4 linked regions of the Homo sapiens genome follow. The protein of the gene in region 3 interacts with the protein of the main gene of each other region in a biochemical or structural test. Each region holds a gene or a part of one and is shown on either strand. Other genes may lie near its edges.

Region 1 (7,725 bases), 4.0 Mb from region 3:
GGAGATCCTCTCACCTCAGCTTCCAGAGTAGCTGGGACTACAGGCGTGCACCACCATGCCTGGCTAATTCCTGTACATTTTTTGGTTTTTTAGTAAAGACAAGGTTTTGCCATGTTGCCCAGGCTGGTCTACAATTCCTGGGCCCAAGCAATCCTTTTGCCTCGGCCTCCCAAATACTGGGATTACAGGCGTAAGCCACTGCCTGGCCCTAAGTATATTATTTAAAAAGAAAACATTTTATCTACAGAAAAGCAACATGGTTTTGTCAGACCCTGGCCCCAGAATCCCAGTTCCTGGGACTCAGTTTTCTTGTCTGAAGAGCGGAGATGATCACAGGATAAGGAATGGGTGAGTTAGTGTATTAAAGCTCCGGGACACCGGAAGCACTCAACATGTGCGAACAATTGTTATTCATTCTCACAACAACCCTCTGTATCCGGGTCTTCTGCCCTGAGACACCAACACCCGCGGAGTCCCTCTCTCCTTCCTTCCAACAATCAGAAGACTTGAAGGCAAAACTAAAAAGTAAGTGGCTTTCTCTCTCTGCTTCTCATCCCACCTGATCAGCCCAGGTGCGTGTGGGCATCACACCAGGGAAACGCAGACGAAGGATCTGAGCGAGCCCCCGGTCCCCAACTCACTGCAGATCCTTGGTGTTGATGAGGAACAGGACCAGGAAACTGCTACTGTTTTTCTGGAGAGGGCAGTCCTGGAAATCCCGGGTCTGGGGGGTGGGCAGGAGGGAGTGAGTCTTGGTTACTCCTCTCCTGGTCCAGCTCCACCCTGTCTCCCTCCCTGTCCACCCACGGGATCTTCCTGCTCCTGCCTCTGACAAAGAACAGGGGCCCTTGGGTTACAGATGCAGAGGACAGACCCTACCCCCTCCCTCCAGCCCCTTCTCCCGTCTTCCCCATGCCCTCCACTCACTGAATAGGAGCGAACTCTGCCAGACCGAACCCGGCTGAGACTGAACCCCACCTGGTGGGTGGAAAAAAAAAGGGGAGGGTGTGAGGGACAGTAGAGACCTCCCAGCTATCCCTTTCAGTAGCAATAGAAACCTAACCTCACATTTACTGAACACCTAACATGTGCTAGATCCCACACGCTCTTTTTCTTTTTTAGAGTTGGGGTGGTGGGTGGACCTCATTCTGTTTCTCAAGCTGGAATACAGTGGCAGGATCATAGCTCACTACAGCCTCGAACTCCCAGGTTCAAACGATCCTCTCACCTCGGCCTCCCGACTGGCTGGGACTACAGGCACACCTCACCACGCCCGGCTAATTTTAAAAACTTTTTGTAGAGACGGGGTTCTCACTATGTTGCCCAGGCTGGTCTTGAACTCCTGGCCTCAGGCAATCCTCCCACCTTGGCCTCCCAAAGTGCTAGGACTACAAAGCCTGAGCCACCGCGCCCCGCCTGTCCCCCAAGTCTTAAGAAAAGTGCCTAGCACATCCTGTGTAAGACATCATTACTCCCAGGTACAGATGACGAAACAGGCTCAGAGAGATGACGGGACTTGTACAAGATCACATGGGTAGCGGCAGAGCTGGGAACCCAGAACCGGGGGATTGCACCGTGCTCTCCTCCAGCAAACTCCTCAAGGTCCCTCACCAGCAGGGACTTCTCTTCTGCCTCCCGGAGGCCCAGCCGCAGGACGCTCAACTCCACCTCCAGAGAGCCATTGGTGTAGAAACCGAAGCTGTTCAGCTGGATGTCCGCTCGCTTCTCCCCCTGCCGGAGACCAAGGAGGCAGAGGCAGTTCAGACCTCTTTCCGCCTGCCCAGCCCCAGGGGTCTGGCACGAGGACCTCCAGAAGGGCCTCCTGGTACCCCTCTATTTAGGACAGGCCCAGAGGATGACAAGAGAAAGTTGAGAGGGACTTCCTCCCTGCAGGGGAAGGGTGGTCCTGCATTCTCCGACCTCTGTTCTGAGAACCCAGGAACAGAGATCCTGCGGCACCTGGAAGTCTCCCCACTGGGGTGAGCACCGCCCGGAGAACAGTTATTCACCTCGGCGTGCCTGACCTTCACCTTCCCGAAGAACTTTTACATTCCAGTTGAGCTCCCAGCAATATTTCAACAGAACCCCCCAAATCCCATTAAGTGCCCAGAGGACCCCACTCTATAGCCCCCCAGGACCCCGCTGTGCGGCTCCAGGGTCTCTAGCGCCCCAAAAGTGATTCCAAGAATTTAAAGGACTAAGACCCAGTTGGGGGGAAGGGGGGTGTAGTCCCCAAGAGATGGAGCCTCGCCCCCGAAGGGAGGGGGCCGACCCCAGCGAGGCGGACCCGGCAACTCCATCCGGAGGACCGAAGGGGATCCCGGGACGAGACCACTCCGGGCCCGGAAACGGGGGGCGCCGGACCACTCCACCGCCTCGGGGACGGGGGAGGGCGGACGAGACCACTCCAAGCCAGGGGGCTTCTCCGAGACAAAGTTGCGCCACCGACCCCAGACCCTCGCGCGGCGGGCCTCACCGTCAGCGCCAGCTGGTGGATGCGCCCGGAGCAGCCACCCAGCAGCAGCACCAGAAGTAGCCGCTGCCCCCACTCCGCGGGGCTCCCGCGGCCGAGCCCCCTCCTCTCGCTCACTGCCATCTCTGGAGCCACCTCCTCCCCGACTCCGCCTCTGGCGCCCAAGCCCGCCCACCGATGAGCCAATCGCCGCACGGCGGGGCCCGGCCTTTCGGAGTTTCCAGTCCGCCAACCAATCAGCAATTGCCTCTCCGCAAGCCCGCCTGCTTGCGTCACCGACGGACAGCACCGGTTCCGAATGGGAGAGCCGATAACGCTTAACCCCCAGCTCACTCTCACCAATCGCTATAAAGATTGTCCGGATGTGATTTAATGAGCAGTTTATCTAACCAATTGTCATGGATCTGATATCCGGCCCTTAAAGCGGAATTTCTCCACCCACTCTTAACTGTCCGGGACTACATTACCCAGAATGCAGCGGGAGCAGACAAGGGCCACAAAGCATTAAATAAACTACCTTTCCCAGTATCCCCAAGGACGGACTTCCTCTTCTTGAGCCAGGGATGTGGCTCCCAGCCAGAGCTGAGGCTTTTGGTAAACACACGCATCTGTTCAGGCCTGACCTGTTTTCCTAATCTTCCTGGTCCACAGAGAGGCCTAAAGCTGGCCTCAGGTTAAAGTTTGACCCTAGGATGACCTATGACCCCAGGCTGAGACCCCAGCCTTAGGCTAAGCCTTTTATTCCAGAGTGAGGCAATTGGAGCCCCACCCCCAGATTCCAGGCTAGACCGGACTCCGGGCTGAACTCTGACCCCAGGTGAACTCCCTCTCTGCAAGTTGAGTCCTAACTTCAGCCTGAAACTCTGACACCCCCTCGTCCCCCACACCACACACTGAGGCTTAATCTCTGGTTTAGGCCACCGATCTGGACTAGCCCTGACTCCAGATTGGACCTGACCCCTTACCGGGTTGCTAATCCTTCTGGTTAAGCCTCTGGCCTCTATCCCCTATCCCCACGGTGGTGCTGACCTGGACTGAACCCCAATTCCAGTTTGAGTCTCTGAGCAGAGGTGAACTCAGAACTTTGCTAGGCTGAGCCCCCATTTGAGACTAGCCACAGAACTCACTGGGTTCAATTGCCCAACTGCAATCAGACATTTTCTAGCTCAGAAGCCACCAGCAGGTGGGGCCAGGTCTCAGCAGAGACATCAGTCCCAGTGTGGGCTCCCAAGGCTCTCCTCCTGGGCTCAGCTGTATCTCTCTGTTCTGGGAGCCTGGGTGCTCTGTGTAAGGGGAACGTATACCCAAGGGCCCCCCTGCAAGACGCCCAGCCTTGTCTGAGGCTGCAGAGAAAGCGCCAAAGCCCGGAGAGAATGGGAGTGGGAATCCCCAGTGCCTCCTCTCCTCTTTCATTCCAGCACCTCAAAGGGATTTACAAGGTGTGAACAGACTTTTATGGGAGAGGTGACAGACTTCCCTTCTCCAGGGCCCAGATGGCCCAGATGTCTGGGGGAGGGGCGGAGTCGGAATCTCAGGGGCAGTACTGAGAATGAAACCAGGTTAAACTGGAAAATGGGCAGATGCAGGCGCGAACTGGAAGGCAGCTGGGGAAAGGCCTGGGCCTGGCGCCCCAAGGACGGCCTGTCTTCAGTTTCCCAGCGGAGACTCTGGGGGAGGGAAGGCAGGATGCGGTGCGGGAGTTAATGGACCTGGCCTTGGCGAAGGCGCGTCCTGGGTTGGATCGAAACCCTCTCATCCGCCCTGTGGCCGGAGGGACCAGACCATTAGTGGGACGAACCTAGACGCCTGGAGCCGGGCCGGCTCGCAAGAACGGGGTGACCTCAGGTTGCCCCTGCAATGGGGTTGAGGAAGGACTTCTTGAGTTTGGGGTTTTAGTGTCTTGGCCCTTTAAGGAATAATTGCGGGGAAAGGGGAAAAGGAGATGGGAAGAACCGTTTGGAGCGGGGAAGGAAGATGAGAGGACGAGAGGGACCCCGGGGATTTGGAAAAAATGGGTGGGGGTTCTTTAAGGGGTCGGTCCAGCGGCGTCGAGTGGCAACGTTGCTTTAAAAGGGGGCGGAGCGTCCGTTGGGCCCCGCCCCCGAATCGCAGTGCTTGGGCTCCGCGCGGGTGGGGGCGTGGCAGAGCGTGCAGGGGGGCGGGGAAGAGTCTGGGGTGGGCGGGGCCGGGCGGGGCGGGGCGGGGCCAGGCGCACCGCCCTCGGCTGAGTCTCCCCGGGGAGGGCGGCGGGCGGCGGGCGGCGGGGACCGGGTGCGGTGGTGGCTGCGGCGGCGGCGGCGGGAGCAGCATGGATTGGGGCACTGAGCTGTGGGTAAGTCCAATCGGCCCGCCTCTAAGTTCCCCTTTGCTGGGGTCCAGGCACCCCCCTTTTGTCCCCAATGTATCTTAGAGGGGGCTCCGCGCCTTTCCCTTCCACCGACCCCTGGGTCCCCGCCCTCCACCCTCCGCTCTCTCTCGAAGTTTATCTGGGAGTCTCAGCACGCTCAGGGGCGAAGGGCGACTTTGCCGGACCGGAGTGGGGAAACTGAGGCACAGGGTTGCGAATGAGGCGGGCAGAAGGAATCCTGGGGCCAGGCCGGGGCGGCTGAGAGAGGTCACCTATTTTGGGCGCCCTGGCCGGGCAGGCGGCTTATCTTACGGCCCCTGGGTCCCTGCCCGTCGTCCGCCTGTCCGGCTAGGAGGGGGGAGGGGACCCTCTGGTCACCCTCATCCCCACCCACGTGGGACCTAGAAGTCCTGACCGCCCTTTCCCTCGCCTTTAATCAACACCTAGGGGCTGGGGACGCTCATGGAGGGGAAGGGGGATGCTAAGCTCGGCCTGATCCCCCTCCCTGGCTTCCCCCTGCTCACCCCAGGCCCAGGGCGGGACCGCCCCCTGGTCGCCTATAACCTCAGCCCTGGAAGCCCCAGAAATTTCCCCCTATCCTAGCCGGACCTCTGACCCCTCCCCTTGCTGGGGGCGGTGGAATCCCTGAGTTCTTAGTGCAGCGGGGGTAACCAGACTGCCACCCCCTCCTCCAATTCTGCGATTTCTTTTGGATGTGTAGTGGGGTCAGTGGGGTAAATTGAGTCACCCATCGGGGGATCCCTGGAAGCAGGGAGATTCAGGGAACCTGGTGCCTGCCCCCTGGCCACTCAGGGGCCCCCAGTCTGCCAGGAACCCTGCCCCTCTGGCCTTGACTCACGCCGGGCCGGCCGGATTTTCCGGAATCCGGGGGGATTAGGGGAGCCCGAGCTGGGGGAGTGGCCCTGTCCCCTTCCACGCCCCTCTTGGCGGTCCTATGTCGGAGACCTCCATCTCCCGGCCGGGGTGGCTGGGGCCTGGGCGCTGTTCTCCGGCCCTTCCCGGGAAGGGGAGGGGGTTCCCGCCAGTTTCCTGCCTCCCCCCGCGCCACGCCGGGGCGGCGCCGGGAAGCCACTCCTTCTAGGAGCGCAGAGCCTTGGCCCTCCCTGGGAGTCTGGTCGGCGGGCTGTGGGGTCCCAAAATCGTGACCCCGGCCCCTCTCCCCTCCTCCCCCACCATGTCCCATGTCAGGATCAGTTCGAGGTGCTCGAGCGCCACACGCAGTGGGGGCTGGACCTGTTGGACAGATATGTAAAGTTCGTGAAAGAACGCACCGAAGTGGAACAGGCTTACGCCAAACAACTGCGGTGAGACCCTGGGGTGGACGCTACGGAGGACGCGCCTGGGGCGACGGGGAGCGGTGGGAGGGCTGCGGGCTCAGCCCTCCTACCTCTGTCTCCCCTTAGGAGCCTGGTGAAAAAATATCTGCCCAAGAGACCTGCCAAGGATGATCCTGAGTCCAAGTAAGGTTGGAGAGGGGCTGCAGGGCTAGATTTGTGGGGAAAGGCGGTGCTTGGGTCTCACTTCCCCTCCCTCAGCTGGGACACCCCACCGCTCCTCTCACTTCCCCTTCTAGAGGTGAGAGCATGGATGCAAGATGCGGGATTATCTGGCTTGGAATCCTGAGTCCACTACTATGTAGAGAAATTGACTTGGGCTTGTGACTCAGGTTTTCTGCCACTATTTTCCTTAACTGTTAAATACAGAGGCCCCAGCAGTTACAAAACCAGTAACTTTGGGCAGATGACTTAAAGTTTTGCGCCTCTGTTTTCCTCATCTGTGAAATGGAATGATGACGATTCCTCCAGCTTTGTAGGGCTTTCATGAACACGAGCTGAGTGAATGTGTTTAAACAGTGTGCAGTCCATATCAAACGCCGTAAGGAGCATTTGACTTGGAATTGAGTCCCCAATTCCAAAATCCAAAAAAGCCCTGGAAATCAAGTTGTTTTGGTCACTTGTTTGGCAGCAATCTCTGACCTGAACTTTTTGTTAATTGTAGTTGTTTTGTTTTGTTTTTGACAGAGTTTCACTCTGTCCCCCAGGCTGGAGTGCAGTGGCGCCATCTCAGCTCACTGCAACTTCCGCCTCCCAGGTTCAAGCGATTCTCCTGCCTCAGCCTCCCTAGTAGCTGGGATTACAGTCACCTGCCACCATGCCCAGCTAATTTTTATATTTTTAGTAGAGACAGGGTTTCACCATGTTAGCCAGGCTGGTAATTGTAGTTTTGACTTTTATCCCACTTAGTGTGAATGTTAACACCTCTCATTGTAAAATTAAAAAAAAAAATAGGGTTGGGCACAGTGGCTCACACCTGTAATCCCACACATTGGGAGGGTGCGCAGGTGGATCACTTGAGGTCAGGAGTTCGAGAGCAGCCTGGTCAACATGGTGAAACCTTGTCTCTTCTAAAAATACAAAAATTAGCCAGGCGTTGTGGTGCGCGCCTGTAATCCCAGCTACTCAGGAGGCTGAGGCATGAGAATCGCTTGAACCCGGGAGGCGGAGGTTGCAGTGAGCCAAGATCGCACCACTGCACTCCAGCCTGGGCGACAGAGTGAGACTCTGTCTCCAAAACAAATAGATACGGTGTTTGATTACAAAATGATGTCCCCAACCCCACTAAGATGATGCAGAAAAGATGGTATAAGCTTTGTACACCATCTTTAAAAACTGGAAAATTCTGTGTTCCAATATACATTCGAGGTCCAGTGCGGTGGCTCACACCTGTACTCCCAGCACTTTGGGAGGGTGAGGCGGGAAGATGCGGAGTTCGGGGGGATTGGAGTTTGAGACCTCATCTGGAAAAAAAAAATTAGCCAGGTGTGGTGGCGTGTGCCTGTGGTCCCAGCTATTTGGGAGCCTGAGGTGGGAGGATCACTTGAGCC
Region 2 (4,876 bases), on a different chromosome or scaffold from region 3:
TTGGCCAGCAGTGAAAGTTATGTTCCTGGGACTAAAAAGAGAAGGGGCTGAAGGCCTTCAAGAACAGCTCCCTCTGTGCCCGGGGCCAACGTGCCTGGGCTGTGGACCCCTGCTCGGCCGGGGTTGCCATGTTGAGGGGAGTGTCATGGGCAGCAGTGGCTTCCCCAGGCCCCACTTGCACCCACAAGCCACAAGCCTGTCTTCCTGGGCTCCCACCATGGCCTCTCCAACAGATCCATCACCAGCTTCCTGTTTCCAAACTGAGTCCTCCGAATATTCCTGGGTGTACCCCCAACCTCACCTTTGCCCACGCACTTGCCCTGGCCTGGCCACTGCTGCCCAGCCATGGACCTGCTCAACCCTCCGCCCCCAAGAAGCCTGCTCTCCCCATTGCAGCCCTGCTGAGCCCCTTCTTGCCCCTGCCACATCCTCCTGCACCCCTGTGTCCTCTGTCCAGGTGTGAATGTGTCTCCTTGGCAGTCTGGGAGCTCCTAGCAACTGGGGCCAGGCCTCTTCTCCAACTATAGCTGAAGCCTCGGCTGAGTTGGGGAGCTCCACATCCAGGCTCCTTCCCTTGTTCCTTTGCCTCCTCTGAACTGAGCACTCGGACACTGGAGCAGGAGAAAAAGAGAACGGGACCCCAGCACACCAAGGAGAACAGAACGCACTCCTTTATTCCCTGGGAGACGACAGGCTCCCTCTCGGGGCTGGGGGACGCTTGGTTCTGGGCCCTAGCAAGGTGGGGACAGTGCTGGGGGCACTGCTGGCTCCACTGGCAGGGCAGGTCCGAAGGGGCTCCTGGCCCTTCCTCAAAGCTTCTCCAGGTAGGAACCAGGGACGAAGCCACGCTGCCCGTTCCTCTCCACAGTCCACCAGCCATCCTCCCCTTCCAGGATCACCTCCAGGATGTCTCCCGCGGACAGGTCCAGCTCATCTGGGTTCTGGCCAAGAGATTGAAAGCGCATGACGTTGGAAGGGCCTGCAGGGAAGGGCCTGCAGGGAGGGGCCTGGCGTTCCCCCACCCAGCAGTAAATGCGGCATGTCTCCCAGGGTGGGCAGGGGCAGCCCCTTGGGGACACAGGATGGGGGTAACCCAACGGACCGGGCCTCCCATCCCCCTCAGTTTGTCATCATAGTTCTCCCCCAACCTGGGTTTCTTCCCAGCCTCACCTCCCCTCTCCCATTCTGGAGACGCAGTGACTGGAGCATGTCAGGGGTCACGGGTGCTCATCATACCCCAAGCCCAGGGCACACTCATGCCTAAGCTTACCACAAGCCTCCCCTTTGCGGTCCCCAGCCCCAGCTAGCCACTGCCATCCAAGTACCCCATCACTCTCCTGGCCTGGCTTCCCTGCCTCCCCGAGCCCTGGCCTCATCAGTGGAGTCCACACCCAGCCTGCCTGGCTATGTGGGGGTGCTTGGCCTCAGTCCAGGTGGATGTGAGGTCTGGCTATGCATTCTTCCCCTCAAGCAGGGAGCAGAAAGGACTCTCATAGCTGCCCTGTGGCTGCCTTGGTTCATCCTCACCCTATGGACATCAGAAAATCAATCCTGGCACGATAGCAAGACTCATTCTGGCCACAGTTTTCCACACCCATGGCCACGAAGGACAGGGCCCTGACCCAAAGGCACAGAGCCTGGCCCTCAAGCTATGACCTGCAGGCAGCTCCAGGCTCTGCCAGCTCCCCGCACGTGTGCACCACTCAGCGCCCAGCCTGTGTGGACGGCATAGGTACATGTGCTCCACGTGTGTGCTGTGTACAGGCCCGGGCAGACACAGGCCTGCTGCACACCAGCTTCCAGTCAGTACATGCACACTGAGGCCCCGCAAGCCCTGGGTGCTGTTCTCAGAGCTCACATCCAAGCACACTCCCAGGTACCCTTGCTAGTGTGGACACACTCGGGCACACGTGCCCTCCTGAGGAGGAGAGGATGCTCGAAGATGAGTGAAACCATGAGGAGAGATGAGGACGCAAGGCACTGGATGGGAGAGGGAGCTCTCAGGTGCAGGGGAGGTGGCACAGGTGGGTTTGGGGTATAGAGGCCTCACCTGCGCTGTATAATCGTAGAGCGCCCGGTACTCCTGGGCTGGTGAGGCCGGGTTTCCCTGTATCTCCTGCACTGCGATGGCTGTGTAGACACCCTCATTCCGCTCGGGGGTGGGGGTCAGGGTCTCTGTGGACGCTAAGAGCAGGGTGAGACATAGACCCCTCCCCTTCTGGGGACACTGGCCCCTGGAAGTCCTACTAGAATGGGGTTTCTCCATGCTGGGCCCTGCCTCTTCCTTCTGCTGTCCACACTTGCTGTTGGGGGACACACACTTCCTCTTGAGGGCCTCAGTGGCCCCATCTGTGCCATGTGGGAGACCTCTCCTCCCCCCCAGGATCAGTGTGTTTGGGGGTCCCCTCCTGACCCCCTTTACCAGCAGAAGCTGCCAACGAAGTGGTCTTGGGACTTCCGTGCAGCAGTCCAGAGAACCTGGGAACAGGGAGGAAAGAGGGTGAGTGTCCCCGCCCCACACTCAGGGACCCACCAGGAGGGAGGGTTTAGACAGGGAGAGGTCTCAGAGCTGCACGCGCTCTGCCAGGGCTGGGACTGCCCCTAGCCTCCAGGCATGGATGTCATTTATGAGGTGCCCCTCAGGCAGGAGGGCTCCCCAGAAAGTAGTCCTGGTGGCTCCTCCTTCCCCAGCTACGCCCTCCACTGGCGCCCTCTGCAGGCCATCTCAGCACCTGCTCCCTGCAGGGCCCTTGGGAGGATCCTAGAACCCCCGAAGCTGTAGCTTCATTGGAAGACTCCCATGGCCCTTTGGGGGTTCTAGGACCTCCGCACTGAGGCCTCGTGGGAAGATGCCCAGTCCTCACCCTCCAGGCCCCTGCTCTAGCTTGCCCTAGCAGCTTCCCCCATGGGTAGGGGTGGGGGGTGCACTGCCACACAAAGCCTGGCTCACGTGCCCTGCTGAGGCCTCCACTGCCTGGGCCGAGCCAGCCCTCCTCCCTGTGGGCCCACGGTGATCAGGCCAGCTCAGCCACCCTGTTCACAGGAGTTCCGGGACAGCGCTGGGCTACTTTACCCCTGCCCCTGCACCAGGCTTAGGCCTGGACTGAGCTGGGGTCATGAAGGTTTACTGAATAAAGGAAAATAAAACAGAAGAGGCAGATGCGGCAGATGCTGGGGGCACCCCCTGAAGTGGGCAGTAGTGAGGGCTCAACAAGTAGAGGCTGACACTGCCTCCAAGGCAAGAGGGCTTCTTAGTGGGGTGGGGCTGAGTCTTCAAAGATGAGTGAAGCTTTACTAGGAGAGAAGGGGGAGCGAGGCACTGCAGGTGACCAGGAGAGGGAGGGCTCAGGTGCAGGGGAGGAGGCATGGCACAGGTGGGGTTTGTGGAGTGGAGTGGACCAATTTGGGTGTGTGGGGGACAGGACTGAAATAGAGACTGGACCAGACCCTGAGGGATCTTGAATGCAGGTGAGGGGCTGAGCCATGACTCAGGGGCCTGTGGGGGGCAGCCCTGCAATTCAAGGTGGCATGTGGGGGGCCTTTCCCACATGAGGCGCCGAGGGCCAAGGCCCCAGGAGTGCACACACATGCGCAGGGTGGACATGCGTGGACCCAGCACATGGGAGGGCCTGACACCAACACAGGCGGGCAGACACACGTGCCAGCTCCCCAGGCAGCAAAGGACAGGGTGCAAGCCAGCAGGGGCTGGGGACAGGTGGAGGAAGCGGCCAGGGCAGGGGGAAAGGGGTGCAGGGCTTGCTGAGCCATTGTGCTGCGTGCCCCCACACCTCTTTTCCCCAGACTGTCTACACTTCTGACTCCCAGTCACTGACCCCCGCCTCTTCCCAGTCCTGCCTGGCTTCTAGATGCCCCATCCAGAGGCCTGACCAGCCCCCTCCAGCAGCCAGGCCTCCCTCGGCCCTGCAGGACATCTCTCTCTCTCTCTCTAATCCTCTCTGGGGCCACTCCTTTCTGCCCCTTCCTGATACTGCTTCAGGTGAGCTCTTTTGTCCAGTTGCTTAAATGACCACCTTTGCTGGGATCCAGGTCCTCACCAGGCACAGGGAAGCCTGTCTCACAAGCTTTTGTAGCATGTGAGGCTGCGGGTGTGCTGCCTCCTGGGGTCACTGCTTGCACAAGATTCTCAAAGAGGGTGTGTGTGTGCCCTCTCTAAGCACGGGTGGTTCCCACGAGCCTCTGCCTCCCAGGAGTAGGAAGTTCCAGGGGCTCCTGAGGCCCTGGAATGAGCTGGTCCTTGGGAAGGGCCGGGAACTGCATCAGCCTCTCCCCACAGTCCACTACCTCCCAGAGGCAGGGCCTTCTTGGTTGAAGGGTGGCTGAAGAGTGGTGGCATGGCGGTGGGGGCACAGGCACCATGTGAAACCCACAGACCCTTGTGGATGCTCACAGGGCACATGGCCTCCCTCAAAGGCCTGGCTACGAGGGCTCCCTAAGCTGGCTATAGTGCTCCCAATGGGCTGTCACCTTCGTCACTCAAGGCCTGAACCAGGAGAGTCCTTAGATTCTGAATCTGACCCCAACACTCAGGGCCCTGGCCTTAGAGAGTGTGAATGACTTGCCCAGGTCACACATTGAGGCCCAGCACTAGGACCTTGGCACTTGACTGCAGCCAGGCCGGGGAAGGAGCCCTGGAAAAGCCTGGAGAATTCTCCAGATGCCCCAGTCCTGCTCCAGCCAGACAGCGTTGCCACTGCAGCCTGACAGGGCACCAGGCTCACATGAGGCCCCAGGGACAAGGAAGCCAGCATAGGGGCCTCCCCAGAGCTCGGAGCACCTCCCCTAGTGAATAATTGGGGTGTGATTATTCTAGTGTCTGGGTCCCTTGGGCTGAGGGTTCCATAGGCTGAACTGAGCC
Region 3 (6,870 bases):
CCATTTTACGGAGGAGGACACTGAGGCACAGAGGAATGAAGTTTACATGGTCACTGTCACTTTCTTAGTCCGTTCTGGCTGCCATATATAACAAAATACCATCAACTGGGTGGCTTATAAACAGCAGAAATTTATTTATCACAGTTCTAGAAGCTGGGAAATTCAAGATCAAGGTACCAGCAGATTCAGTGTCTGTTGAGGGCAAACTTCCTAGATGGCGATCTTTTCTCTAATCTCACATGGCGGGAGGGGCAAGGCAGCTCTCTGGGGTCTCTTTTATGAAGGCGCAGTGAGAAGCTCAGCAGGTTTGTGAAAAGAAAAAAAAATACATAAGGGCACAAATCCCATTCACCTAATCACCTAATCGCCTTCCAAAGGCTCCACCTCCAATTACCATCATGTTGGGGATTAGGTTTCATCATGTCAATCTTGGTGTGGTGGGTGATGGGGTAGAGGGCTGGTCTATAAACATTCAGACCATAATAATCAGTAAATAAACAGGCCCAGGATCTAACCCAGATATGATCAGTTACAGAGCTAGTGATCTTCACCAGCCTGGGCAACACGGTGAAACTCCTTCTTTACAAAAAATACAGGTGGTGTGCATCTGTGCTCCCAGCTACTGAGGAAGCTGAGGTGGGAGGATTGCTTGAGCCCAGGAGGTTGAGGCTGCAATTGCACCACTGCACTCCAGCCTGGGCAGCGGAGTGAGACTCTGTCTCAAAAACAAAAACCAGTGCTCTTCAAAAATGAAGTTTTTGAAATGGAAAAAGTAGGCCAGGTGCAGTGGCTCACACCTGTAATCCCAGCTACTCTGGAGGCTGAGGCAGGAGAATCACTTGAACCCAGGACGTGGAGGTGGCAGTGAGCCGAGATCGCACCACTGCACGCCACCCTGAGAGACAGCGAGATTTCGTCTAAAAAAAAAAAAAAAAAGGTTGGACGTGGTGGTGGCTCACACCTGTAATCCTAGCACTTTGGGAGGCCAAGGAGGGCAGATCATGAGGTCAGGAGTTCAAGACCAGCCTGGCCAACATGGTGAAACCCCATCTCTACTAAATATACAAAAATTAGCTGGGTGTGGTGGCACGTGCCTGTAATCCCAGCTACTCTGGAGGCTGAGGCAGGAATATCGCTTGAAGCCAGGACTTGGAGGTTGCAGTGAGCCAAGATCGCACTACTGTACTCCAGCCTGGGAGACAGAGCAAGCCTCCATCTCAAAAAAAGAAAAGAAAAGAAAAAAAAAGTCCAAGCGCGGTGGCTCACACCTGCAATCCCAGCACTTTGGGAGGCCAAGGAGGGAGGGTCATCTGGGTCAGGAGTTCGAGACCAGCCTGGCCAACATGGTGAAACCCCATCTCTACTAAAAATACAAAAATTAGCCAGGTATGGTGGCAGGCGCCTGTAGTCCCAGCTACTTGAAAGGCTGAGGCAGGAGAATCATTTGAACCCGGGAGGCGGAGGTTGCAGTGAGCTGAGATTGCATCACTGCACTCCAGCCTGGGCTACAGAGCAAGACTCTGTTTCAAAAAAAAAAAAAAGTGAAAAAGTAATACATGTATGTAATCCACAATTCAAATCACATCAAAAGTGCAACTACTTTTATCAATTTATGTATTTTTCCAGCAATTTTCCGTGTGTACATATGGTTTTCATGCATGTCAGCATCCTTCACACACAGTTCTGTACCTTGCTTGTTTTTTCCTCTTAGTATATCTCAAATTATTTATACTTCAGTACATGAAGAGTTTCCTCAACGTTTTTGTTTGTTTGTTTATTTGTTTTTGAGACGGGGTTTTGCTCTTGTTGCCCAGGCTGGAGTGCAGCGGTGCGATCTCAGCTCACCGCAACTTCTGCGTCCCGTGTTCAAGCGATTCTCCTGCCTCAGCCTCTCGAGTAGCTGGGATTACAGGCACGCACCACCACGCCTGGCTAATTTTTTGTATTTTTAGTAGAAACGTGGTTTCACTATGTTAGCCAAGCTGGTTTCGAACCTCTAACCTCAGGTGATCTGCCCTCCTTGGCCTCCCAAAGTGCTGGGATTACAGGCATGAGCCACCGCACCTGGCGCTTTTTGCCTATTTCTTTGAGACCTGGGGTTTTGGGTCACAAAACAGGCAAATGCCATGAGCCACCCTCCTCCTCTTTCTCCATCTTCTTGTGCTGCCTCAGGTCAGAGCACTTACCTGCTCCTGCCTTCTCACTGGGTTTCCTTGTCTCTGGCCTATTTGTCTCCAGAGGGGTCAAAACACTTCAAATCCTCCTATTTGTCTCTGTCCACTGTCAGGAGTTCCAGTTCCCAGAACCCCAATTTTGCCTACAAAATAGCGTGTCTTTTCACGGGGAGAGGATTTGTTGAGTTTTAGTGGGTACTCAAAAAGATCTAAAGCCAGTTGGGGGGGTTCACACATGTAATCCCAGCACTTTTGGGAGGCCGGCCTGTGAGGGTCGTTTGGGCGCAGGAGTTTGAGACCAGCCTGGACAACACAGCAAGACCCTGTCTCTATAAAAAATAAAATAAAAATAATTAGCTGGGCATAGTTGCGCACGTCTGTGGTTCCAGCTACTCGGGACGCTGAGGCGGGAGGATCGTTTGAGCCCAGGTGCTTGTTGAATTGAGCTATGAGTGCACTACTGCACCCCAGCCTGGGCAACAGAGTAAGGACCCAGTTTCTAAGAAAAGAAGATTCATTAGCTAGACGCGGTGGCTCACACCTGTAATTCCAACACTTTGGGAGGCCAAGACGGGCGGATCACTTGAGGCCAGGCGTTCGAGACCAGCCTGGCCAATATGGTGAAACCCCGTCTACTAAAAATACAAAATTAGCTGGGCGTGGTGGCTCACACTTGTAATCCCAGCTATTCGGGAGGCTGAGGCAGGAGAATTGGTTGAACCGGGGAGGCGGAGGTTGCAGTGAGCCAAGATCGCGCTACTGCACTCCAGCCTGGGTGACAGAGTGAGTACCCCGCCTCAAAAAAAAGAAAAGAAAAAAGATTCATGATCTGCTAAAGTTGAAGAAGTGGGGGAAAACATTGGAGTGTTAGCGGCGTCAAGATCGGGCGTGAGCAGAAAGGGCACAGCATTTGCAAAGGCGTGGAGGAGTGATTTTATTGCGTTCTATCCCTAGGAAGCAATGACTTGGCCTCTACCATTTGCAGAGCGCATTGGGACCCTGCTCCCAGAGCTGGTTTGCAGTCTGGGAACTGAGATGCGCTCTGGGACTTGTAGTTTTCCCCAGTGCCAGGAAACTCAAAAATCGAGACATCGGATCCCACCACGAGGTGTCGCCCTTGAGCGAGTACGGTGGGATCTATCCTATACTTCAGAAGGCTGTTGCAGACATCCAACAATCACAAGGAAGAACGGGAGTTTTTCTGATTGACAGATATGGTTCTCAATGATAGTCAAGATTCGGATGTTAAAGCCCGCCCTCTTTTGCCTGGTTGGCTGGAGCAACGAAGTGATATTTATATGAACCAATGGGAAATTCTTAGGGAACGAGGTAGTAGCTCAATCCCCAACACCATTGGTCCACATTGTCTACTGGCACGTCTGCCTGCCAATAAGATGGTGGAACTTCGCCAATGGGCAGAGCCAACGTGCCTTTTTCGGAAACACCCCCTTCCTCTCTTGACAACTTGCTTTCTGCCGCTATTGGCTGTTGCACAACAGTGACGGTTCTTTTGTCCAATAAGTCAGCAAGACGGTCCCCAGGGGGAAGGTTTACTCAACCATAGGCCCGTGCCTAGTTTTTATTGGCTAGTGTATCCGAGTGGCGGTGCAGCAGGCCAGTCGCGTGCGGCGCGAGTGCTTTGGGCGCAGCCCCCGGGGCCGGGGCGGGAGGTCGCTCGGGTCGGGTGTCGCCTGAGAACCGGATGAGGCGGCGACCGTGAGGCCGAGCCGGGAGCGGGCGTCTTGCCGAGGCCCGGGCGGGCGGGGAGCAACGGCTACAGACGCCGCGGGGCCAGGTCGTTGAGGGTCGGCGGCGGGCGAGGAGCGCAGGGCGCTCGGGCCGGGGGCCGCCGGCGCCATGGGCAACCGCGGGATGGAAGAGCTGATCCCGCTGGTCAACAAACTGCAGGACGCCTTCAGCTCCATCGGCCAGAGCTGCCACCTGGACCTGCCGCAGATCGCTGTAGTGGGCGGCCAGAGCGCCGGCAAGAGCTCGGTGCTGGAGAACTTCGTGGGCCGGTGAGCGGGCGCGGCAGGGATCGCGGGCGGGTGGCGGCCTAGGGCGCGGAGGGCGGACCGGGAATGGCGCGCCGTGCGCCGCCGGCGTAACTGCGGCGCTTGCGTGCCCGCGGCGGGGAACCGGACGGGGTCGGGGAGGCGGGCCCTGTGGGACGCCCTGGGCAGAGGACTCCCTGCAGGGGCTCCGGAGCAGGCCCGGGCCCCAGGGGCGGTGTCACGGGCCAGGGCGCCGTAGGACAGGAGGTGCGCTGGAACCCTGCGGTCCATCTGGTCCCAGCTTTCGTGGGTGAAGTCTGCCATCTGGTTGGCCGTGGGTCTGGGGTAGATCCCTCTTCTGCTCTTTCGGGCTGTCCATCAGAGGTGAAACCGGCCATCTAGATATCTATTGGGGCGACCGCTGCGGTCTGGCTGGCTTGTTCTTGTATCTGGAGCTGCCCCCGCCGTCTGGTTGGCTGTCTCTCTGTCCTGGGCAAGCCTCCCTGCCACCACCATTTGGTTGTCCATCTGTCCAGTCCCACCTGGCAGCCCCCTGCTGTCTGGCTAGCTGTCCAGGGTGACCTCTGCTGTCTGGCCGCCCATCCGTGCCCCTCACAGACTTTAACACTGAGCAGTCCCTCTGTTGGGTGACACCAGCTGGCCTCTACTGTCTGACTGGCTAGCTGACTCCTAGGGGACCCTGTTTGATTCTCTCTGGCTGACTCTTACAGCTTGATTCCTGGCTAGCGCTGGCTCCTCTCTTCCGTGTGAATTCTTCTGTCTGTCTGGCCATCTCCTAGTCTGCCCATGACTACCCCTGAGTGTCTGGCACAACGGCTCTGGAAAGGGGTGGTAGGAGGGTAGAGGGGAGAACAGAGCTGAAGGAGGAGGTTTGGACCCTACTTCCCCTCTCAGCTGGAAGGAGGACTCTGGGGGTACCTTACTTCAGGATTCCTTTCCGAGTGCTAGAACACAGGGGCCCGCCTCCCAGCTACAGCCTACAAATTGGGGGCCCTCCTTTGGAGCCTGGGAAGGGGCTTCTTGCGTGATCAGGCCTCAGTGGCTAGCGCTGGGATGTAGCCTTCTCTGGACAGCCTTGAGAAGCCGCGGTGTGCCCATCTGTCCAGTGGGCAAACTCCACTCTCTGGGGCTGTTTCCAGGATTCAGGAAGCAAATGAATGAGAACAGCCCGTGCAGCCACCTCTCCCTCCCACCAACCCCTCTTGCCTTTCTTGTCTCCCAGATGGGCGGCCACTTCTCCATTCCAGGAACTACTCATTTGTGGTGGTGTGGCTGCCAAATGATAACATCCTCCTCCTGTCATTATTGTCATTGTTATTGTTGTTATCATTGTCAAGGGATAATGTCCCTTCTTGATTCAACATCTTGAATCCCAAGTAAGGAGTGGGGTGGAGGCTGTGTTATCATCCCCACCTTAGCTGAGCTGGGAGGCTCAGAAGGGACTGTGATCACCCAAGGCCACTAGGCTGGCGTAAGGCCTTGTGTCTGCCATCCCAGAGCCTTGGGGCTTTGCTCCAAGCAGCACAAATCTCCTCTTTTGCTACCTTGTCTCTAGCTCATTGCCTTCTGTCTACCGTGGTGGAAAGGTGTGGACTTGCAGCCAGCTGGGCCTGGCCTGATCTCAGGCTGGACTGTGGTGTGGGCCCCTTTGAGTGACCATCTTCCTGCCTGCCCAGGCTTCTGGGACGGGGGTGGGGGGTGTTTGCAAAGCTCTGTCTCTTTCACTTGCCTTGTGACCTTGCACAGGTTGTCTTGGCCTCTCTAAGTCTTGGTTGACTCTCCTAAACAAGTTTATTTTATTTTATTTATTTATTTATTTTTTTTTTTTTTGAGACAGAGTCTCCCTCTGTCATCCAGTCTGGAGTGCAGTGGAGCAATCTTGGCTCACTGCAACCTCTGCCTCCCAGGTTCAGGCCATTCTTCTGCCTCAGCCTCCCGAGTAGCTGGGATTACAGGCGTCTACCACCAAGCCCAACTAATTTTTGTATTTTTAGTAGAGACGGGGTTTCACCATGTTGGCCAGGCTGGTCTCAAACTACTTACCTCAAGTGATCCTCATGCCTTGGCCTCCCAGAGTGCTGGGATTACAGGTGTGAGCCACCAAGCCTCGCCCCAGGAGTTCCAAGACCAGCCTGGGTAACATGACAAGATGCCATTCTACAAAAAATAAAAAAATTAGCCAGGTAGGGTGGTAGTCCCACACCTGTAGTCCCAGCAACTCAGGAGGCTGGCCCTGGGAGGACTGCTTGAGCCCAGGATGTCCAGACTGCAGTGAGCCGTGATTGCACCATTACCCTCCAGCCTGGGTGACAGAACCAGATCCGGTTTCAAAAAAAGAAAAGAAAAAGTGCTTACTTACCTAACGCACTGCCTGGCACATAGTAGGTCTACATGGATGGGGCTATTGTTGTTTATCTGGCTGGTTCCTTTGCTATCAGGGACAAAAGCTAACCAGAATGAAAGTGCTTTCACGTTACACACTTAAGCCTTATGAGGGAGGCATTGCTATAATCCCCATTTTACAGAGCAGGAAACTGAGGCTCAGATAGCTGAGCAGAACACTCTCACTGGAGGCTGTAAAGTGAGGAGTTAGGTGTTCTGGGTTGGGAACCTGGGTCTCTCTCCCATCCTTACCTCTCCTCAGTCCCTCTACCCCTTGCCTTTCTCTCCTGTCTACCATG
Region 4 (7,653 bases), on a different chromosome or scaffold from region 3:
TGTTTTATTTATCATCGCTTACTAACACAAGCAAAAAAGCTCAATTCCATAGAAAGAAACGTTTGCGTGAACAGACTCCTTCCACTTATAAACCCAGGCTATAGGCCAGGTGCGGGGGCTCAGCCTGTAATCGAGGCGGGCAGATCACCTGAGGTCAGGAGTTCGAGACCAGCCTGGTTAACATGGCTAAACCCTGTCTCTACTAAAAATACAAAAATTAGCTGAGCGTGGTAGTGCATGCCTATAATCCCAGCTACTCAGGAGGCTGAGGCAGGAGAATCGCCTGAACACAGGAGGCAGAGGTTGCAGTATGCTGAGATCACGCCATTGCACTCCTGCCTGGGCGACAAGAGTCAAACTTTGTCTCAAATGAATAAATAAATAAACAAACAAACAAACCCAGGCTATATTATCCAGCACATCAGTTCTCAAAAGGAAGTAATTCTAGGTCTAAAGCTTCTCTGTAGATAACATCAGGTTCACGGACCTGATGGAAAAAAATGGCTACAAAAGTAGGACAGGACTATTTCTCTAATTTTTTTGTCACATGCAAACATTAACATGGGCTTTACATACTCTCCTAAATATACATATGCACAGAACAGTCACCTGTGCCTTAGACTTTCTAAGAGTGTGCTACACTAAATTATGGATAAGAGACTACGTGCTGCTTCACCTTTCAAATAAAAGGCTTTTCAGTAAAAGGAAGACAATGACGCAGTGATTCTGCATTTGGATTCGGTGTGATAAACATTAACCGTATCGCATCACATGCCGACCTTCTCCAACCTTTTAAGTTCTTTCCTAACGCAGTTTAAATTATTTTTTCTACACTTTAGGGCGACACAGAACTTCAAGATTTAGCGGAAATGGAGCGCTCTATTTTTTAAGTTGGAAAAACTAAAAGGTCTAGCTTGGGTAACTTCTTCACAGCATAAGGGATAGTATTTTATACTAATAAAAATATCCTTTATGTCAATAACTATAATTTATTGAACACTTTATACGTGTGTTCTACACACTCGTTTCTCTTCACCTCAACCCTGAAGAGACAACGGAAATTATCATCACTTCAGCATGGACAGGTTCAGAAGTTAAATACTCTCTCAAGGTCAGAAGCAGCAGAGGCAGGATTCAAACCTTAGCCTTTCCCACTCCAAAGCCAAGACTCTTAATTGCCTTTGAGGGCACTAAGCTTTGCAAAAGAAATCTTTAGAATCCAAGTGGAAAAAAGATGTGTTGGTAAACGCAGTGCTGAGATATGCTATAGAGAAGTGACCAGTAGAGCAATCAAAAAGGTTAGTAATATCGAAGAAGTCCTGCCACAGAATTCCTGGGCAGCACATATGCTTGGTTCTGTAAACCTGAAAGAACTTGCAGTATAAAGTTATTAGAAGCCTTCCAAACTACATCAACAAACAAATCACTTACTTTCATAAACATGTCTGGCAGAGAGGTCACAGATAACTCCAATTATAATAGAAAAGCAAAAATAATTACATTAAGAAACATTTTTACAGAAATAGTCTTACTTTTCTTGATTTCCTAAGTTGACAGGTATAATTGATTCTATAAAGGCAAGAATGTGTGATGAAGATGATGCAGATGCGTGCAAACACACACACGACGGGAATTACATGCTGCATCTGTCACCCTAAGTTAACCAAGGTTCTGTAAAACACAACCCTCACCTTTTCTGGATGTGGTTCATAACAAGGCTGCCACTGTGGTAGCCTAGGAAAAACCTCACTACTTCCGAGAAATTATGAGAAAGCTCGTTAATTAAGGCTAACCTATGAAAAACTATTTAACACCAAATCATGAAAAACATTTCGCGGTAAGTCATCAAAATCCTTAAAGATCCCATAAATTTGAACCTATTTCAGAAGGATAAAAAAGTAGTAATCACACACATTATGTAAGAAATAGGTCACAGCGTAAGTATTCGCTTACTTGCCCCTATGTAAAATTCTTTGAGTCCAATGATTTTAATTATTAGAATCTAAATTAATCAGTTTTATTACAGTCACAGCTTATTAACCCCATAAAGAAAAATGGGCACATCCAAGATGCCAAAGATTTATTAAAAACAATTTAAAATACATGATGATTTTAAGTCTTCAACAATTTGGTTGTTTTAGGGAAATATTTAAGACCCGCAGACTGTTTGTCATGCCCTGGCCTCAAAGGAGTTTCACGACCGAGTTCTCCAGGTAAAAGTTAATGTATGCGGGTCCCTAAAGGAAGACCCCAGCCTTCCATTCCCCTGGAGCCTGCGGGCGGCGGGGAAGGAGGGTTCTGACAACAGGGTAAGGGAGAGGAGCGCAAACCGCCGGCCTCCGCCCCGCCACCCCCAGTGCGGCCACCGCTCATGCCAACACATCCCGGGAAAGCCGGGTGCACCGACTCCGCAAGGTCACCCGTGAAGAGGCGACTTTACATAATCTCCCACCGCGCCGCCAAGGCACCTGCGCGCCGCGGCAGCAGTGCAGCCGCGGTCCCCTTCCTGCAGCACGGGCGCGAGATGATGCGGGGGCGGCGAGCAGCGCTACCAGGCAGGACGCCGGGGACCCGCGGGAAGGCAGCGCGCACCAAGCCGGGGGCGGGGGACCGAGGGTGGACGCCCAGACCGGGGATGCCCCGAGCCGCCGCCTTGGCTTGCGAGGCGGGGCGCGGCCGGCGCGGGCGAGGCTCGGTGCCGAACTCCCCAAGCTGCCGCCGGACGGCCAGCGCCGAGCGCGCCCCTCGCAGCTTCGCCCCGGACTGCCCCGGGACGCACCTGCCGCGCGCCTTACCTGAGTGGCTTTATGGAACTGCTTCTTGAGGCCGGCCACCGACATGGTGCAGGAGGCCGCGCTGGCGGCTGCTGTGCGGGAGGGAGGAGGCGGAGGGGGACTGGAGGGCCGAGCGGGGCGGCGCGCTCCCCTGGCCGCCTCTGGTCGTGCCGCCGCCGGGGCTATGGGCGCGAGGGCGCGGAGCCTAGCGGGACACGGGCTCTTGCGGAGAAACACTCTGACGTCAAGGGCGGGTGATGCGGCCTCTTAAAGGGGACGCGGGAAGCCCCGCCCCAAGCGCGGGAACGCCCAGGCAGGTGCTGTGGCGCGCGGTACCTGGATGCTGGCGCCAACTGCGGGGATGTGGCTCAGCGGCACCCGCTGGCGGATCCCTAGTCAGCGGGCCGAGGACGTCCTCCTGTCCCGGGGTTGGTGTTCCTGCCCCCGGGGGCTGCGGACGGGTCGCTGCAGATTGGCAGCCCAGGCACCCGCAGGACTCAGGTGACTTGCTGGGCTTCCAGGTAGCCGCGGCGGCGCTGCCTGCAGACGGCCCTCCTGCCCTTTGAGCCTGGCGTCTCTGCGCCGCAGCCTGAAAAAGACTGGCCTTCTATCTGGGCTAATGAATAAGTCATTGCTCCTTCTATGCCTTGCCCTGACTGGTGGGTCACAGAAAACATTTCTCTGCCCTGGTTTCAATATCCCTTAAGCCCATCTTACCTTAGGGAAAGTCACACACGCGTTTTCCCCCTTGTCTGATACAATTTAATGACTTAAAAAGAAGAACAGGAACCCTTAAGCCTGGACGGATAAATAGAATTGAAGTCTTACTACAAAACTAGCGTTCAATCCTCTGGTTACAGAAATGAAAAAGCCCAAATGTGATCTTGTTGTTATGCTTGTGGATTTAGGGTTTCCGGTCCGATAAAAATCAAAATATAATGTGAAAAAGCATGATACTAAGTTATATACAGATGCTTCATATGTAACCAAGGAGGTATGGCTGGCTAAAGTGAAACTAATAGATGACTTGGGAGCAGAGCAGCACTAAATGCCTTCTGTGCTCTGGTACTTAACCAAGTCTGGTTTTTCTAGGACTGAGGAGGTGGTCAGAAAGAACTTAGACGCTGTCCCCGTATGTGGACCAAAGTGATAAGAAGGAGAAGCCAAGATGGGAGAAATTGCCAAGGATGTGTAGAGACTGCAAGGCCAAATGGGAGTCCTAGAAATACTTTTTCTGTCTCCGCAACTCCTGCAGCCTGATAGGAGCCACAGACCCATCCCCACTCTTCTAGGCACTGCGGCTTGGGCACAGGGTGAACACCTGCTACAAAAGGGTCCTCCATCCGTAGAGCTACCAGTCATGGTCCTTCTTGATAATGTGAACTGACACACACAAAGGCAGAGTCAAGCAGTGGTGGGCACTGGAGCAGTAGAGCGCATGGACTAGGGACGCAGGCTGCAAAGGGAGGCAGATGAAAGGAGCTATTCTCCAGTGTGGTAGCCCTTACCACTGTTCATATACCTTTCCCTACATGGCAGAATTGCACTTTCCAAACCTCTTGTTAAGTGGAGGCATGGTTACAAGTTTTGACTAGAGGTTTAAGAGGAAAAGTGACTGTCACTTCTGCAGCAGCAATATGAGATGTATGAGATGCCGCAAAGCTTTCTTTTCCTCGGCCGCAATATTCTAGAAAGCTGTGGTCTGTCAGCCAGTATCCAGAGTGAGACTAAAGCAGTGCAGAGTCCCCACCTGACGTTCAATGGGCATGTAGCATCAGTGAGAAACCTGAGTAATTTTAATCCACTGAGGCTCCGGTTGTTAGGAATAAACTTTTTTCTCTATGTTTCCAATTTTTAAAAAGGCTACCCATTACTTGCATAATAGAAAAAAAAGTATTTTATAGTTAATTTTTACTACCAGGTCCCTGATCTGAACAATAAAGCATTTTCATAAGACAGGGCTTTGTTGAAGCTGCCAAAAGATAGAGCAATTGATCTACAAAGTGGAAGGGCCTGGGATGGATAGGAGCTCTGCTCTCTAACAGTGAAAGGTGTGAAATGGGGGCCTGAATTGCCTCCTTGGAACTTTGAATACTTAACTGAGCCCTACATTATAAAAAAGGCAGTTTCTATCTTTCCCTGGTTCTTCATCCACCAACCTGGAAGTCTCATGCTGCTTAACTTCAAAGAAACTACCTTGGGAGAAAAAAACTACTTAAGGGCATTACATTAAATCCTTTGGAAACCATTGATTTAGTCGCCCAGGCATCCTCTGCACCTCATCTTATATGGTTTGGCTGTGTCCCCACCCAAATCTCATCTTGAATTGTAACTCTCACAATTCCCACGTGTCGTGGGAGGAACCCAGTGGGAGTGATTGAATTATGGGGGTGGGTCTTTCCTACACTGTTCTCGTGGTAGTGAATGAGTCTTACAAGATCTGATGGTTTTAAAAACAGGAGTGTCTAGTTCAACCATTGTGGAAGTCAGTGTGGCGATTCCTCAGGGATCTAGAACTAGAAATACCATTTGACCCAGCCATCCCATTACTGGGTATATACCCAAAGGACTATAAATCATGCTGCTATAAAGACACATGCACACGTATGTTTATTGCGGCATTATTCACAATAGCAAAGACTTGGAACCAACCCAAATGTCCAACAATGATAGACTGGATTAAGAAAATGTGGCACATATACACCATGGAATACTATGCAGCCATAAAAAATGATGAGTTCATGTCCTTTGTAGGGACATGGATGAAATTGGAAATCATCATTCTCAGTAAACTATCGCAAGAACAAAAAACCAAACACCGCATATTCTCACTCATAGGTGGGAATTGAACAATGAGATCACATGGACACAGGAAGGGGAACATCACACTCTGGGGACTGTTGTGGGGTGGGGGGAGGGGGGAGGGATAGCACTGGGAGATAAACCTAATGCTAGATGACGAGTTAATGGGTGCAGCACACCAGCATGGCACATGTATACATATGTAACTAACCTGCACAATGTGCACATGTACCCTAAAACTTAAAATATAATAATAAAAGAAAAAAAAAACAAACAGGAGTTTCCCTGCACAAGCTCTCTTCTCTTGTCTGCTGCCATGTGAGAGGTGCCTTTCACCTTCTGCCATGATTGTCAGGCCTCCCCAGCCAGGTGGAACTGTGAATCCAATTAAACTTCTTTCTTTTGTAAATTGCCCAGTCTCAGGTATGTCTTTATCAGCAGCGTAAAAACAGACTGATACATCATCTAAACCCAGCATTTGTATTGAAGCCACAATTTATGCCTGTAAAGACCTTTGAGATGTCACCTTTGAAGAAATTTGTTAAGCTCCTCCTACTAGCAAGCATCATGGTAGGAGATGCTGGGATTGAGAAGGGGAAGTATCGAGGCATGTATGGGCTGGACCTTGAATCCCAAGGGGTTTCCAGACGAGTAATTTGAAAAAAAAATCTTCCTAGGGACATTTATTGTTACTTGAATACAGAGGAACAAATACCCCAGACACTGAACAATTCTAAGCATGGATGCCATCTTTGGTTGCAAAGAATCTTCAACAGAGGCTTTGGAGAGAAATGCAGAAGCACAATGCAGGGAAAGGGGAATCAAAAGTCAACGAGGAAGAGCTTTGTTTGGTAAAAGGTTGTGGTAATTCAGCATGCTGCCCTAGTCTCCCGAGATAAAAATCAATGTAAACTGTTAAATAAACCTAGATCTGCTCAGGAAAGTCCCAATTAAATGAAACCCCCACAAAATATCACCTCACTAATTGGGCAGTAAATTCGTGGTCAGCAATAATCCCATCACATCATTCATGCACTATTTCTCCTTGCATTATGGTAAAGCTTCTGGCAAATACCAGACCTCTCATTTGCACAGAGCTGCTGCATCCCTGGCACCTTTCAGAGGGTCCCTAGCTTCAAGGAGGCAGAGGAAAAGCAGCAGCATTCATCTTTCTGAGCTTCAACCCCTGTCTCTGTGCCTCTGGCTCATACCGGGGCAAACTACTCCTGACTTCATGTGTAAGCTCGTTAAGCATAAGAAACATTGCAAAGCAAAGGCATTAAACTCCAACTTCTTATTTTAGAGATAGGAAAACAGAGGCAATGAAGGGAAGTGACTTATCCTTACTTTTTCTACTCCAGCCTTTAGCCTCAATTCAGGGTAGAGCCTCTAGTCAGTGTTAATAAATAGAAGAGGTTTGAATGAATGAATGAATGAATAAAAGAATGAACAATGTATCATTGACACTGATGCTTTCTTCTGACCACATTGGATCTGATGTTCAAAAGCCTTCACCAGATACTAAAACCTCGATTGCGCAGGACCCAGTTTTTCCAGGGTGAGTGGCGCTTAACATAAGATTTTGTGCCTTTGGATGCGCCCCAGTAGCATTGAACACCCACCTAGCTCAGGCAGGGCTAACACGCCCTTTCCTAGAGATGAGAAATCAAGGGAAAGACCATCTTTGTTTCCTTGCTTCCAGTTTTGTCACCTACCACCCACTCTCCAACAGATACACAGAGAGAAGCATTTTTTTTTAACCTCTTTTGAAGTGGATGTGTGGGTCTTTCTGCCGGGGATGGCCACCTTTCCCACCTTTCCTTCTCTCCCATATAGCCCTCCTCCCCCCAAAGTACAGGGGCCTCTCCCTGCAAAAACTTCCTTTTCACTTAGATAAACCCTTTTAACCCAATCACAGAGGAGAAGAAAGTGCTTAACCAAGTGGGTGACTCATGTTAGACTCTTCATCTGTACCATCATCACTATTTCCATTGCAGATTGAAATAGTTCTGACTTCCCCACAAAATCCTGCCACCTCCAGTGCCCATTTGCAGTGTTTTTCCTTTGAAGTCTTTCC

The links.
Region 1: the proteins of DNM2 (region 3) and TRIP10 form a complex in vitro, tested with the Homo sapiens proteins (one study listed by BioGRID).
Region 2: the proteins of DNM2 (region 3) and PSTPIP1 form a complex in vitro, tested with the Homo sapiens proteins (one study listed by BioGRID).
Region 4: the proteins of DNM2 (region 3) and SH3GL2 interact in a biophysical measurement, tested with the Homo sapiens proteins (2 studies listed by BioGRID and IntAct, with this or other methods).

Annotation. Positions count from the first base shown.
Region 1 is NC_000019.10:6,734,981-6,742,705, forward strand, and holds the start of TRIP10 (cdc42-interacting protein 4), read left to right. Parts: upstream 1-4,699; 5' UTR 4,700-4,781; coding exon 4,782-4,805; intron 4,806-6,029; coding exon 6,030-6,145; intron 6,146-6,244; coding exon 6,245-6,301; intron 6,302-7,725. Other genes in the region: protein GPR108 isoform 3 precursor, read right to left, coding at 642-724, 928-978, 1,612-1,731, 2,477-2,596. UniProt on the Homo sapiens protein: Required for translocation of GLUT4 to the plasma membrane in response to insulin signaling. Required to coordinate membrane tubulation with reorganization of the actin cytoskeleton during endocytosis.
Region 2 is NC_000015.10:77,033,110-77,037,985, reverse strand, and holds the end of PSTPIP1 (proline-serine-threonine phosphatase-interacting protein 1), read right to left. Parts: intron 2,479-4,876; coding exon 2,423-2,478; intron 2,185-2,422; coding exon 2,051-2,184; intron 942-2,050; coding exon 810-941; 3' UTR 511-809; downstream 1-510. UniProt on the Homo sapiens protein: Involved in regulation of the actin cytoskeleton. May regulate WAS actin-bundling activity. Bridges the interaction between ABL1 and PTPN18 leading to ABL1 dephosphorylation.
Region 3 is NC_000019.10:10,714,212-10,721,081, forward strand, and holds the start of DNM2 (dynamin-2), read left to right. Parts: upstream 1-3,867; 5' UTR 3,868-4,031; coding exon 4,032-4,192; exon of another isoform or gene 4,193-4,292; intron 4,293-6,870. UniProt on the Homo sapiens protein: Catalyzes the hydrolysis of GTP and utilizes this energy to mediate vesicle scission at plasma membrane during endocytosis and filament remodeling at many actin structures during organization of the actin cytoskeleton.
Region 4 is NC_000009.12:17,574,430-17,582,082, reverse strand, and holds the start of SH3GL2 (endophilin-A1), read right to left. Parts: upstream 3,018-7,653; 5' UTR 2,841-3,017; coding exon 2,796-2,840; intron 1-2,795. UniProt on the Homo sapiens protein: Implicated in synaptic vesicle endocytosis. May recruit other proteins to membranes with high curvature. Required for BDNF-dependent dendrite outgrowth.